Regions from separate parts of the Homo sapiens genome. Here region 2 is linked to region 1. The links come from fine-mapping of genetic effects on gene expression. A gene starts in region 1. The other region holds a variant in brackets. All regions are shown on one strand. Distances are from middle to middle. Region 1 holds the start of CYB5R4 (cytochrome b5 reductase 4). Region 2 overlaps RIPPLY2-CYB5R4 (RIPPLY2-CYB5R4 readthrough).

Region 1 (2,916 bases):
AACATTCTTCAACAATATTAACTTTTCCTTGCTCTGGTTCTCTGCTTTTGATATTCTTATGTAAAAGTTTTCTCACGAGAAGTGAAATAAATCTCAGTGATTAGTTTTTCTTGTGTAGACTCTAGAAGAATATGTCATCATTTAATGAGAGAGAACACAGAAGCAATTTGCAAAGTCAAAGTAATACAGTTAATTATAGTCATGAGGTTCTTTTAGCTCAAATTCAGTCTTCTCATAATAAGCATTTCAATTGCAAATAAAAATGGATAGAGGTGAATGTCATAGGTGGCTACCTTATTTGAATGCTTGTATTTGAATGGCCACATATAGTCACACACTTTTTCTTCTGATTCTGCAAACATAACCTTGATTTTTTAGGCACTTTAAGAACTAAGTAGTTAAACAGAGAAAGTTTAAAGCATGACAATATGTTCAGAGTTAGGAAAAATTAGTAATTAAAGGAGGATGGGGAGGATTATTTAGAACTATGTTTCTTCTCCTGAAAACTTTCTCCCTTATTGGATTCTACTCTCAAGATCTATGTGTTCCCCAAGGGACACACAAAACAATCAATCAAACAAACAAAAACCATCAGATTTTGAGCATTAGAGCCTGGTGTTTACCTGCACAGTGTTGGTCCTTTTCCCATTAATATGTTGGAATAGCACAAACAGCCACTGCCACTTATTCAGTACCTAATATTAATCAGGCACTGCAGTATGTAGTTTACACATGATCCTTTAATCTTTAATAAACCCATTATGCAGATGGGGAAAATGAGACTTTGAGATACTAAAGTAACTTGCATAAGACAGCTCAGTCATTAAGTGCAGGGATGGCATGCAAACCAAATCTGACTTTTAAACGTTACTTCATCACCACAGCTGGAGGTGAGCTGCATCAGTACACAATTCCCAGTGAAGACAGGAAGTTACATAAGGAGGGAGAATTTGTGAGTGGGTGAATAGAGCAGAAGGTGACTTTACTAACGTCTTTCGCGCATTCATTAGCCCTCAGCATGCTTAAAGGTGAAGTTTAAGGATGATTAAAGGTGAGGTTTTCTTCTTACCCCACAGTAGTGGCTGTTGACATTTGATATTTTTGCTCTTAAAGGTGTGAGATGCTCTTTGCATTACAGCCTAGTGCCTTACAGGAAAGAATTTCAGAGAAACTAAAATTCGTTTTAGTCCATATTTCAAGTAGTGTGTTTTAGTCCATATTTCAAGTAGTGTGATGGTACTGCTTAACAATGAACAGACATTGCTGTTCCGGGTTAACAGGACTAAGAATTTGTTCCCACATTCGGTCAGCACCAAGGCTAAGGAACAGCTTCACTCTCTAATCTTTCCACGAAATAGCTGTCACCTTGCTCCGGTGCTGAAGTTCGGGATGCGGAACTAGCTGAGCATGCGTACTTCCTCCCTGCCGGCCCTCCCTCCGTCCCGTTGGCTCCGCCCTCCGCGGACGTGCTGCGTCAGAATGCGCCTCACCCCTGGCGACCCCGGAAGTGGGTCGGGGGCTTGGCCTCTGCCCGGCCACAGAGCCGGAGCTGGAGGTGCTGTCCCGTCTGGCGGCGATCCCCGGGCAGGGCCCGGGGCCGGGGTTTGAAGATGCTGAACGTCCCTTCCCAGTCTTTCCCGGCCCCCAGGTCGCAGCAGCGTGTCGCCTCCGGGGGGCGTAGCAAGGTAAGCGGGTGGCTCCGTGAGTCTCTCCCCTCGCTGCGTTTCGAGCTCTGGCAGTGTGTTCTCTTCTTCCGCCCCAACTCCCAGCTCCTGCACCCCTCTCTAAGCTGTCGTTCCCTGCTGTCCTTGCCTGCAACCTCTTTCTGATCCCACTTTGTCTACAGTCCCTAAACTCTCCTTACCTCCTCCCTTTCCCCTAGCAGTCCCTCTTCTTTCTGGTCCTTTATCCCGCTCTATCCGTTCCCTTCCTCCAAGTCCTTTCCCGCGATTTAAATTTATATGACAGAGCCAGGCACTGTGTTTGCGGTATTATAGGCTCTCGGTATTAGCCGCCTTCCCTCAACCTCATCTTCTCCCTGGTCTTTTGTTCTTCACTGCCTGAAGGAGTTGTACCACATCACTCGATGTGGGTTCCCTCGCAGGAGGGAAAGGCTTGGCAGTGGCGACAGTGACCGTCCGTGCAAGGATGGGGACTTCTGGAGTTGGGGAGCTAGGTCAGGTTTACAGACACTATCCAAGACATACTGCCTTTCTTTCTTCCTCTGGTACCTGATTGTTTTGTCATTGCCTTTTCTACTAGTATCACTTGCTAACTTCGAAGCAAATATAATAATACTCTTGAGTTCTTGTTGAGCACAGTTGCTGTTAGCAACAGGTGGAATACTGTACAGATATATTTTATATTTGCAGAATTCAATAAAAATTGTGTTCTTTGTTCTTTTGCGAATGTTGTTTGTTCCTATTTGTTAGTTCCTCATTCTGTAACCATATCTTTATCTTTCGTTTGTGACACTTCCACTTAACTTGGGCCACTCGGTTAACTCTTGAGTCTTAGCATCGTTTGGAACCCTTATCGATTTTCTTATTTTTCTCCACTTAGACCTGGCGTTCTGATTCTAGTTCAGAATGAATATAGGTTCAGGGATCTGTGGTTTTCATTAGCTTTCCAGAGATTTCTTAAGTACTTACGGGTGGCCGTGTATATTCTCAGTGCTTTGCATGTATTAACTTTAATTTTCACAATTATCCTTTGAAGTGAAAGCTTTTATTGTCTCTATTTCGCAGAAAAGGAAACTGGCTAAGAAATATTGCCCTAAATTGCGTAGGCTTGTGTTGTGGTTCTGCTGTGAAATTTCATTTACTGATTCATATATCAATCATCTAGCCATCCAATCATGTATATTTTTCTCATTGGTTTTTGACCTATTTCTTGAAGCTAAATACTTGACTGAAT
Region 2 (2,916 bases), 66 kb after region 1:
TTGTTACGTTAATTTCACATTCATGAAATTGTTGTTAGTTGTACAGTTGTACCAGAGTTTGGAAGGCTGCTTTGAAATGAGCTGAAGGGTCCTTGTATCTACTGCTAGGAAGTTTGAAAGGGACAATGTGTGTTGTCCTGCTTTTTTTTCCCATAGAAGTTAAATTTCAGACTCTACTATCTAATGTTTAGGCATAGCAAAGTCATTACGTAATGATACCTGAATGAAGAAGCCCACTTGTGCTTAGACTGTTGATCAACCATTTTCTCTTTCAGGTCCCCTTTTGTGAAAGATACAAAAACAAGTTTAAGTTTATGCTTTGTATGTCTGCTTGATATTTTTCCTAATGAGGAAGACATGTTTACTATTTTTCTTCTTAATTAAACTGGTTTCTCAGTTTACTTCTTGTATTAGTCTCTTCTCACATGGCTATAAAGAAATGCCTGAGACTGGATAATTTATAAAGAAAAAAGGTTAATTGGCTCACAGTTCCACAGGCTGTATAGGAAGCATGGTCCTGGCATTTGCTTGGTTTCTGGGGAGGACTCAGGAAACTTACAATCATAGCAGAAGGTGAATGGAAAACAGGCACATCTTACATGGCTGGAGAAGGAGGAGGAGAGAGATGGGGGAGGTGCTACACACTTTTAAACAACCAGATCTTGTGTGAACTCTGTCACGAGAACACCACCAAGAGGGTGGTCCTAAACCATTCATGAAGGATCCGCCCCCATGCTCCAGTCAACTCCAACTAGGCCCTACCTCCAACACTGGGGATTACAATTCAACCTAAGATTTGGAAGGGGACACAGATCCAAACCATATCTTTTCTAAAAGATGATACCATTCATTTCTTTTCATTTTTAAAAAGCTTTTTATCTAAGTTTAACATATATATAGAAAAGGGTGCATATTAGAAGTGCTCTACTTGATGATACTTTGCAAAATGAACATATCCTGTATTTTCTCTTTGGAAATTGGTAGTATTTGCTCCTTGTTCTAAGTGTTTTGGAATTTCACAATGATGTGCCAGAACATGGATGATTTTTCATCCTTCATGCTGGGTATACATTTTTTGTGCTAATCTTTTCAATATGGAAACTTAATGATCTTCAGTTCTTGGAAACTATTATTGGTTTTTCTTCTCCCCATGGTCTGTTTTACTTTCTACATATTGAACTTCCTTAACTGTTCTTCTAATTATCTTATCTTTTCTCTCTTATTTTCAGTTTTGTCCTTTTGTTCTACTTTCTGCAAGATGTCTTCAGCTGTGTCTTCTAGCTCTTCTATTGAGTTACTCATTTCTACTCATATTTTTAACTTCTATAAATCCTTTGATTTCTTTTCCTTTGTTTTAGCATCCTATTCTTATTAGCTTATCTTTTAAAGAATGACTGGTAATGTTTTCTTCTCACTGTATAACTTCTGTGTCCCTCAGGTTTGTTGTTTTTCATTTGTTATGGTGTCTTTAATATTAAATGCTTTCTTTGAATGTTTCCTAATCTTTTACTATCTGCTCATATTTCAGGGTGGGACTGTAAAGCTAATTGGAAACTGTGCATGTGGGTGTGGCTTGTCAACGGTTATATTCACTATATGGCTGGAACATTTCTTTGGGAAAAGTCCAATGCCAAGAGTCCCTAGAGTGAACAATCTCCTACCTTGTACCCAGCATTTCAGAAGCCATGTGGGGAAGAAGGCTGGGCCTAGCTTCTGGTATATCTGTAA[G/A]CGTCACTTAATTTTTTCTTTCTTTTTTTTTTTTTCTTAGAATGTTATATTAGTTTGCTAGGACTGCAGTAACAAACTACTACAGACTGAGTGTCTTTGGCAGAGTCGGTCTCTTCTGAGACTTCTTCCCTTAGCTTGTAGATGGCCTCCTTTTTTCCTGTTTCTTTAGATGGTCTTCCTTCTGTGTGTCTGTGTCCTAATGTCCTCTTTATAAAAATACCAGTCACAATGAATTAGAGCCAACTTAATTACCTTTTAAATGAAGACCCCATTTCCAAATGTCGTCACATTCTGAAGTGTTGGGGGTTATGACTTCAACATATGTGTTTGGTGAGGGGACACAATTCAGTCTATAGCATAGACCCAATCCAAAGACCCCTTGTTTACCCTCTAGAGTGCAAACTTCTTATATTTTGCTCATGTGGGGAAGTGTCAGTCATGTGGCTGTGCTAAGTAGGGGAGGACTTCAAGGGGATGGGAAGACCTATCCAAGCTTCTTAAATGAACTTGTATTGAGAAAGTAATTTTAATTCTACCTTGACTCTGATGCCAGAGGTACTTGGTCCTGCCAGTTTCTGGGCCTTAAAGGAATTTTGTATTATAAGCATGTTGGTTCTTGGCTTTCTACACTTCTGGCTTAGCATTCATCTGTCTTGGGTCTGTTGAGTCATTTACCAGTCTTCTCTCTGCCTTGTCAGCTCCTAAAGTTTTGTTGCTTTTGTCTCTGATTTCCGTTCTTCCTGTCTGTGTGGGCTTATGCCTTAAAAATCAAACACACATACAAAAACCCTCTTTGTTGTTATTTTAGGGGATTCAGAAGGAACTAACTGCATGTATTCAGTTTATCTTCTTTAAATATGTAAAATTATCATATATAATTTATTGCATGAGATAGGAAAAAACAAACTTTTTCCTAGTCTTACCGCTCCACTCAGAACACTAAAATGTGAGATTTCTTCTCACCAACAACCAATTCTACAGCAAACTGTCTATCCTACAATTTAACTCAAGTCTGATACATCCTGGAGTTTAGGGCAGACCCCACAGGTTAAGGGCTTAGTCCCACAAGACTGCCCCCTACTTCACATGCCAGTTGCAAATTCCAGGTTGTGATCTATCTTCTGACCAGCTACCTATAAATCAGTGTTATCACAGCCTCCTTCTTGGGTTCAAAAATTTGCTAGGATG

What was found.
Region 2: its variant is fine-mapped to the expression of CYB5R4 in whole blood (TOPMed, PIP above 0.99).

Annotation. Positions count from the first base shown.
Region 1 is chr6:83,858,173-83,861,088 of GRCh38, forward strand. CYB5R4 (cytochrome b5 reductase 4) reads left to right here and starts at 1,517. Exons shown (of 16, transcript NM_016230.4): 1 at 1,517-1,685. The coding sequence starts at 1,611. The region is part of intron 3 of RIPPLY2-CYB5R4 (RIPPLY2-CYB5R4 readthrough); the gene reads left to right. RefSeq lists a silencer at 1,588-1,637.
Region 2 is chr6:83,924,608-83,927,523 of GRCh38, forward strand. The region is part of intron 12 of RIPPLY2-CYB5R4 (RIPPLY2-CYB5R4 readthrough); the gene reads left to right. The region is part of intron 10 of CYB5R4 (cytochrome b5 reductase 4); the gene reads left to right. Among named protein-coding and RNA genes, the nearest start is that of CYB5R4, 66 kb to the left of the region's middle. The variant G/A (reference allele first, on the strand shown) is at 1,729.